Linked DNA regions of Homo sapiens: regions 1 and 3 are each linked to region 2. Evidence: fine-mapped expression QTL. A gene starts in region 2. Each other region holds a variant in brackets. All regions are shown on one strand. Distances are between the middles of the regions. Region 1 has its middle 11 kb from the start of ADAMTSL4. Region 2 holds the start of ECM1 (extracellular matrix protein 1). Region 3 has its middle 9.1 kb from the start of PSMB4.

Region 1 (2,758 bases), 30 kb before region 2:
TCGTGCCTGCCTGCCTGCCTGCCTGCCTTCCTTCCTTCCTTCCTCCCTCCCTCCCTTCTTTCTTTTCTTTCTCTCTCTCTCCCTCCCTCCACTTCCCTCCCTTCCTTCTTTCCTTCCTCTCTTTCTTTTCTTTTCTTTCTCTCTCTCTCTTTCTTCTTTCCTTCTTTCTTGATGGAGCCTTGCTCTGTCGCCCAGGCTGGAGTGCAGTGGTGCAGTCTCAGCTCACTGCAACCTCCACCTCCCAGGTTCAAGCCATTCTCCTGCCTCGTAGTAGCTGGGATTACAGGAGCCTGCCACCACATCCAGCTAATTTTTGTAGTTTTAGTAGAGACGGGGTTTCACCATTTTGGTCAGGCTAGTCTTGAACTCCTGACCTCAAGTGATCCACCCACCTCAGCCTCCCAAAGTGTTGGGATTACAGGCATGAGCCATCATGCCTGGCCCTTTCTTTCTTTCTTCTTTCTCATTTTTTTTTTTTTTTTTGAGACAGGATCTCACTCTGTTGCCCAGGCTGGAGTGCAGTGGTGTGATCATAGCTCACTGCAGCCTCAAACTCTGGGGCTCATGCAATCCTTCTGCCTCAGCTTTCTGAGTAGCTGGGACTATAAGGTGTGCACAACCACGTCCGGCTAATTAAAAAAAATTTTTGTAGAGACGGAGTCTTACTATGTTGTGCAGGCTGGTCTTGAACTGGGCTCAAATGATCCTCTCACCTTGGCCTCCCAAAGTGTTGGGATTACAGGCATGAGCCATGCACCCAACCAGAACCTGTCCTCTTTACTGCGAATTCTGGTGGCAGATATGCCAGTAGAACTGAGTTCTGTGATGACTTCCCAGCTTGGCAGGCTCCTTGTGCTTGGGGGTTCTGGACAGAATGTGAGGTGGTTGTGAGGGCAAATGATCTGGGAAGAGGGGTGAGACCACAGAGGAAGGATAGGCGCTGCCTAGTGGTTGGGGGGCCAGGCCTGAGGACTCAAGGCATTTTGAGAAAACAGAGCATCCTATTGTTTTGTTCTGGAGTCTGGAATCACACTACTGTCCTGACCCCATGGCACTGCACCCAATTCCCAGGACAATTGTAGATGCTGAATTAAGAGCAAGAAATAGTACATTTTGTCTCAAATAAGGAAGGTGAGAGAAACCCAGTTTCCTTCCCCAAAGAGGCTCCTCCGAGAACATAAACATCCAACCATGATGGCCCCAAATTGCAATCTGTCGCCCCAGTCCAAAAGTAAATGAAGAATTTTTTTCCAGCAGAGCAGAGCCTTACAGAGAGGTGAGCTCTGGGGGTGAGAAGGGCCCTAGTCATACTTTGAGGAGGGCCTGTCTCTCTCTGTCAAGAGCAGGGCACAGGGTTGGAGGTGGGGCGGGCGGGTGCAAGACCCTGAGCGAGCTGTTTCCCTCCAGACAGGGCCTCCCCCTCCAGGGTGCTATCCCGGCCTGGGTCGGGTCAAGGATCCAACCCCAGGACTGCCTTGAGGAAGGGGCCATGAGCATTTTCCCCAAAGGAATCTTGTTCTTGTGCCTAGAAGTTTTCCTTGAATTTCCAGAGAAAGCCAATTTGGTATCAAATTAATCTTGACACATTGGGCTGAAGGCCTGAGAAAGGCAGACATAAAAGGGTAGGAACAAGGGACAAAACTGTAACTGCAGCCAGGGAGGCAGGCAGGGCGGCCAGAGGAGAGGCAGGAATTTCATAC[G/A]TACCAAGGACTTGAAGTCAGAGGCAGGAGAGCCCGGGCCTGCTGGGAAGGAAATGCAAGTTGAGGCAGGAGGTGCTCACCCCTCCCACCACAGGCCCAGCTCATCTCAGTGGACAAAGGGTGGACGGGAAGGTGTGTATCTGCTTTTTGTTTTGTTTTTTTTTTTTTGAGATGGAGTCTCGCTCTGTTGCCCAGGCTGGAGTGTGGTGGCATGATCTCAGCTCACTGCAACCTCCGCCTCCTGGGTTCAAGTGATTTTCCTGCCTCAGAAAGGCCTCCCGTCCCTGCTCACAGCGCCCCCTGTCCCGTCAGCTTCAGGATCTGGCCCTGGCCCCTTGCTCAGCCGCAAAGCCTGTGCCCTCCGGCCTCCACTGCCTCTCCAGCTTCAGCCCCTCTGCCCAGGGCCACCCTCCCTCCCCTGCCCTCTGTGGAGAGACAGCTCAGTCTCACTCTGAGGAGCCTGTTGCCTCTTGGGAGGGCCCCTGCCCCACCGCTCTCCCAGCCCAAACCCTCTGGGCAGCTCTATCCTCCCCAAAGAGTCTCTCACTTTAGTGTGCCTAACAATTGCCTGGGAGGTTATGAAAATAAAGGTGCCTGGTCCCCTCCTCTGGGTGGTCCTGTTCATGAGCTCCACAGGGGTTCTTCTTTATTTTTTGGGACAGGGTGTCTGTCACCCAGGCTGGAGTGCGGTGGCATGACCTCAGCTCACTGCAGCCTGGATCTCCTGGGCTCAAGCGATCCTCCCGCCTTGGCCTCCCAAAGTGCTGGGATTACAGTTGTGAGTCACTGTGCCCAGCCTCCACAGGGGCTCTTATACACACCCAGTATGAGATCTGCCCCGTTTGTTGGAAAGTTTGCCTGTGAACCAGGTATGAGCTAATTGGGGCCCTCAAACAGAAGTATGCAGGGACCATATGTTAATTGATTTCTCAATAACAGCCTGTTTCTGTTTCCAGTGCCCATTTCCCTGGGGTAAAGGAACTTAATTGTGAATTTAGGGGATCCCCACCTTCACCTGCAGGCTCTCCAGTGCTATCGTGGCAAGATGGTGTTGGTGA
Region 2 (2,751 bases):
CTAGAAGCAAGAGGGGAGACATCAGAGCCCACAGTGCCTCCTGGAGTCCCAATCCCATGCTGCTCCCCCAAACTCTTACCTTCTTGAAAGTGCTCTGGCCTCAGCTGCCTCTGTCCTGTAGCCGTGAAGCCTGGAGGGAAGAAGGGCAAGTCAGGGGCCACTGGGAGGGCCTTCCCTGGACTTCAGCAAGGGATGGGGAGGCTGTGGAGATCAAGAGTGTAGGACAGACAAGCAAGACACGAGATGCCCCTCTGTATTCACCTGCCCCGTGTCCCCTAATCCTCTCCCAGCCCCAACACACCTAGACATGACCAGCTGGGTTCTGAGAAAGCCTGTGGCGGTCTGATAGCTCCACCTCTACTGGCTCAGAGGTTGGGCCTAAAGGGAGTATGGCATACGGGATTGGGGAGGGAGGCCCTCATTTCCTCTGCCAGTCTTTCCCTCAGGGCTGTGGGTTGTCCTCCCCAGTCTCTGCTGGGATGCGTCTCTAGCTTTCAGAGGAAAAAGTCTGGACCTTGAGCTGGTTGGAGCCTACCCAATCCACCTCCTCCACCCACCCTCCTACTCCAGGCCCTTGAAACATCTTTAGGCCTTTGGTTAAGGAGGCTTCCTGAAGGTTGAGTGCTTCCCCTTCAGCCAGTCTCAGCTCCGCCTTAGTTTAGGTCTCAATTTAGGGCCTGGGGGACTGGGACAGGCACAGGGAAGGGTCACTTGTAGGTGATCTGCAGACACAAAAGACCAGGAGCTGGGAAGAATGATGGCATGGGGCTTCACAGAGAAGTGGACAGATTTGCTGACATCCTCAGCAGCTTCCTGCAGGAGTGCCCTGGGTGGTTTTTTTCCTTTTCTTTTCCTTTTTTTCTTAGTTTCCACCCATAGCATTGAGGGGTTCCTGTTTTGTTCAGGCATCAAAGCAGATAAAGAATGTGTTTGTGCTGGATGGAGGGTGGGTCTGTGGATGGACACCCCTCAACTCCTCTAATCAGACAGGGAGTCAGTCGAGGCTTGCTGGGCCAGCAATCCGGTTTTGAGCAGCCTGGGGGCCCCTTTTCCCTCCCTTGCCTCTCCCACCAGCCACCTCCCTACATCCTCATCAGCAGGAGACCCTCACTCTGTGAACCCACCCCCCACTCAGTTGTCTATTTGACTGGGATTCTGTGTTTCTTGGCAGCAGTTTCTAGGAACCCCTCTCCTTCTGTGCCCCTGCTCTCTGCCTCCTTGGTTAAAGGCTCCACTGGCCTAGGCCCACTTTGGGCCTGCTCAGAAAAGGAAAGCCAAACGGAGAATCACTCTGCTAGTGATGAGCCGTCTGGGATGCCTGGACCCAGACCCCTGCCATGCAAGCCCAGACCCCCTCCTAAGTGCTGATCCCCCAACTCACCTCCCTCAGAGGCAGCAGAAGCAACAGCCAAATAGGTCAAGACCAAGGCTGCTCTGGCTGTGGTCCCCATCCTGGGGCAACTGACCACTGGACACTCAGAGGTGGGTCCTCTCAGGCAAGTCTGGATGTGAAGGGCCGGCCACTGAAGCTTGTCTGGTGGCTGTTACGGTTGTGAGCTTCAGGACCAGCTCTTCTTTTATAATTGTCTGGTGTGATCTCCCGCCCTCCTCAGCTTCCTGCCATGACTCAGTCCCAGCTGCTCCTCCTCTGGAAGCCACTCCTCCCAAAGTCACCCTGAAGCCTCCTCAGAGGATTGAGAAGAATGGGACTGATTAGAGGAGAACATTCTTATGACCTTCAAGAGAAACTGATTCAGAGAATCCAGGAGCAAGAGGTGTTTGAGCCCCTAGTTTGTGCCTCAGTTTCTCCATCTACAGGCTGCCTTCTGTGGAGAGGGGATCTGCCAACTCATGAACTGGGGTTGGGGAAACAGGGCACAAAGGAGTTTACAGCGGGGAGCAGGAAACCTATCCAAGGGATCTCCCCTACCAGTGTGAGGTCTGGACTGTCCCTTTTCAATTTCCCTAACTCTCTGGGACAAAAAAGAGGGAGACAAAGTGGAACATCCTTTTATCCCACCTCTCCAGAGTCAGAGATGAAGACATATGACCAGCAGCTTCCAGTTTGTATTTATTTATTTATTTATTTATTTAGAGACAGAGTCTCGCTCTGTCGCCTAGGGGGGTGCAGTGGCGCAATCTCAGCTCACTGCAACCTCTACCTCCCGGGTTCAAGCGATTCTCCTGCCTCAGCCTCCTGAGTAGCTGGGATTACAGGCGTGTGCCACCATGCCCGGCTAATTTTTTGTATTTTTAGTAGAGACAGGGTTTCACCGTGTTAGCCAGGGTGGTCTTGATCTCCTGACCTCATGATCCGTCCGCCTCAGCCTCCCAGAGTGCTGGGATTACAGGCATGAGCCACTGCGCCTGGCCCAATTTATTTTTTTTTGTAGTTTCATTCTCCTCACATCCAAACAGCTACAGCTTCCCTCCTTTTGTGGGGTCCCCAAACCAAGTCTCTTTTCAGGAGAGCAGACATGTGCCTCCACACAGTTCTGAAGTTCTGGGGGCTCCACATTGTCAGCTGGGTTGGGGTCTCCCATGTGAGGGAGGCTGATGGCACTCGCAGGTTTTTGCCTCATCTATGTACAAAGGCTCAGAAAATTTCTTCGGCATTTGGGACCCTCGTGTTCTGTAGCTCCACCAGTCGCTGCACAGCCTCAGGCAAGTCCCACTCCCCAAGGCGACGATTATCTCGAGTCCGAATGTTCACTGTTCTCTTACTTTGCTCTTTCTGGCCAACCACTGCAG
Region 3 (2,758 bases), 880 kb before region 2:
GGTCAAGAGATCGAGACCATCCTGGCCAATATGGTGAAAACCCATCTCTATTAAAAATAGAAAAATTAGCTGGGCATGGTGGTGGGCGCTTGTAATCCCAGCAACTCGGGAGGCTGAGGCAGGAGAATCGCTGGAACCAGGGAGGTGGAGGTTGCAGTGGGCAGAGATCACGCCACTGCACTCCAGCCTGGCAACAGAGTGAGACTCCATCTCAAAACAAATAAACAAATAAATAAATAAATAAAAATAATAAAGTTGAAAAGAATAAACACACATTCAGAACACGTTATTCCCCTGAACCACTAGGCCTGGCCCACCCCGTTCTGAGCACCTCTCATACTGGGAAAGCTCACAACCAGGAATGCCCAGAAGATCAACAGTTTACACATTCAGTTCTGTACCCTCTGTTCCTCTGATGTTCTACCTTCAAGGGTTCACTGAACTGTGTAACTCCCAAGTTCTGGAATAGGGAGAGGAAATTTTGTGCTCAACCTCCACACCCTTCTCAGACCAGTGAACCTGTCTGATTATGGATATTCAGATTTTCCCCTAATCTGTGCTAAATCAAACAAATAAAATCAGAGACTGGCAATGAGAAGGGCAGTTCTAACATGCTTCCTGCCAAGATTATGCTCCAGAGTCATAGTCCTTTAGTCGGGGTAGATTAGAGTCAAGGTTTACACCTCTAGGCAAAGGTCACTGAGGTTTGAGGCAATGTTTAAGGCTTTGTGCAGTGGCTCATGCCTATAATCTCAGCACTTTGGGAGGCCAAGGCGGGTGGATCACCTGAGGTCATGAGTTCGAAACCAGCCTGGCCAACATGATGAAATCTCGTCTGTACTAAAAATACAAAAATTAGCCGGGTATGATGGCGGGTGCCTGTAATCCCAGCTACTTAGGAGGCTGAGGCAGGAGAATCACTTGAACCCGGGAGGTGGAGGTTGCGGTGAGCCAAGATTGTGCCATTGCACTCCGGCCTGGGGAACAAGAGTGAAACTCTGTCTCAAAAAAAAAAAAAAAAAAAAACTTGATAGCACCTAATAAAACTGAAAATTACACATGCTAAATTACCCAATAAACCTATAACATAGAGACACTCACATGTACACGTTAGGAAACATTCAAGAATGTTCATCAGAGCATTGTTCGTAATAGCAAAAAAATAGAAACAGTCTAAATGCTCATCAAGGGGGAGTAGATAAAATGCAGTATATTATTACAAAAGAATACTACAAGGTAGCTTAAAGGAAAGAACCTAACATATCAAACACATTGTTGAGTGAACCAGATAAACCACAGAATGACATATATGATATGGTACCATCTGCGCTAATTTAAACACACAAAACAACACTAAGAATGTGGGCAGGCGAGGGTGGGGGATGCGCGCGCATGTGTGTAAAATTGAGTCATAGTGGCAGTTGAAAATGAGTTTTATATAGTCTTACTTATAATGACACTCTGGGAAAAAAGTAAGGAACTTCTGAAACATTTTCCAGCAATAAAAAATAAATGAAAGCGGCCGGGCGTGGTGGCTCATGCTTGTAATCCCGGCACTTTGGGAGGCCAAGGCGGGCGGATCACGAGGTCAGGAGATCGAGACCATCCTGGCTAACACGGTGAAACCCCGTCTCTACTAAAAATACAAAAAATTAGTCGGCGTGGTGGCGGGCGCCTGTAATCCCAGCTACTC[G/A]GGAGGCTGGGGCAGGAGAATGGCGAGAACACGGGAGGCGGAGCTTGCAGTGAGCCGAGATCACGCCACTGCACTCCAGCCTGGGCGACAGAGCGAGACTCCGTCTCAAAATAAATAAATAAAAATAAATGAAATCTGCCAATTATAATGGAATTAAAGCAGGAAGTAGGCTTTCCTGGGGAAAGGGGAGGAAGGGAGTAACTTGGTCCCTGGAAAGGGAAATGGTGGGTTGAGAGAGGTTATAATACGATTTTAGATTTCAGCATTACTATAAAATTTTTTTTTGACAGATGAGTTCTCACTATGTTGCCCAAGCTGGAGAGCAGTGGCTATTCACAGGCAAGATCCTTATGCCACTACAAATGGCTTTGAGACTTTGAGAGAGACTCTGTTTGTTTGGAAGAAAATACAAGAAGAGAATAGGAATTTCTACCTGGTAATCCAGAGAATTATTTTGGCTCTTATTCAGGACCACCAAGGTGGTACTCTATGAGGCTGCAGGGACCACAGCATTACTGAGCTTGGGGTGCCGCCTAATGCAGAGACAGCTTAGATGACAACACCTAAGTCCCTTCAAATACCTGGAAAGCCTTCCCAAGAAGGACAGGTACGGCCGAGCGCGGTGGCTCACGCCTGTAATCCCAGCACTTTGGGAGGCTGAGGCGGACAGATCACGATGTCAGGAGTTCAAGACCACCCTGGCCAACATAGTGAAACCCCGTCTCTACTAAAAATAAAAAAATAAAAAAATTAGCCAGGCGTGGTGGCGGGCGCCTGTAGTCCCAGCTACTTGGGAGCCTGAGGCAGGAGAATCGTTTGAACCCAGAAGGTGGAGGTTGCAGTGAGCCGAGATTGCACCACTGCACTCCAGCCTGGGCTACCCAGCGAGACTTTGTCTCAAAAAATAAAATAAAATAAAATAATAATAATAATAATAATAATAATAATAATAATAATAAGGCTGGGCGTGGTGGCTCATGCCTGTAATTCCAGTATTTTGGTAGGCCGAGGTGGGCAGATCACCTGAGGTCAGGAGTTTGAGACCAGCCTGGCCAACATGGTGAA

The links. PIP is the estimated chance that this variant, and not a neighbour inherited with it, causes the effect.
Region 1: its variant is fine-mapped to the expression of ECM1 in fibroblasts (GTEx, PIP above 0.99).
Region 3: its variant is fine-mapped to the expression of ECM1 in atrial appendage (GTEx, PIP 0.95).

What each region holds. Positions count from the first base shown.
Region 1 is chr1:150,537,127-150,539,884 of GRCh38, reverse strand. No RefSeq gene overlaps it. Among named protein-coding and RNA genes, the nearest start is that of ADAMTSL4, 11 kb to the left of the region's middle. The variant G/A (reference allele first, on the strand shown) is at 1,701.
Region 2 is chr1:150,506,910-150,509,660 of GRCh38, reverse strand. ECM1 (extracellular matrix protein 1) reads right to left here and starts at 1,552. Exons shown (of 10, transcript NM_004425.4): 1 at 1,382-1,552; 2 at 80-130. The coding sequence starts at 1,451. It overlaps TARS2 (threonyl-tRNA synthetase 2, mitochondrial), which reads right to left. Exons shown (of 18, transcript NM_025150.5): 18 at 2,059-2,745. The coding sequence ends at 2,597.
Region 3 is chr1:151,389,052-151,391,809 of GRCh38, reverse strand. No RefSeq gene overlaps it. Among named protein-coding and RNA genes, the nearest start is that of PSMB4, 9.1 kb to the left of the region's middle. The variant G/A (reference allele first, on the strand shown) is at 1,694.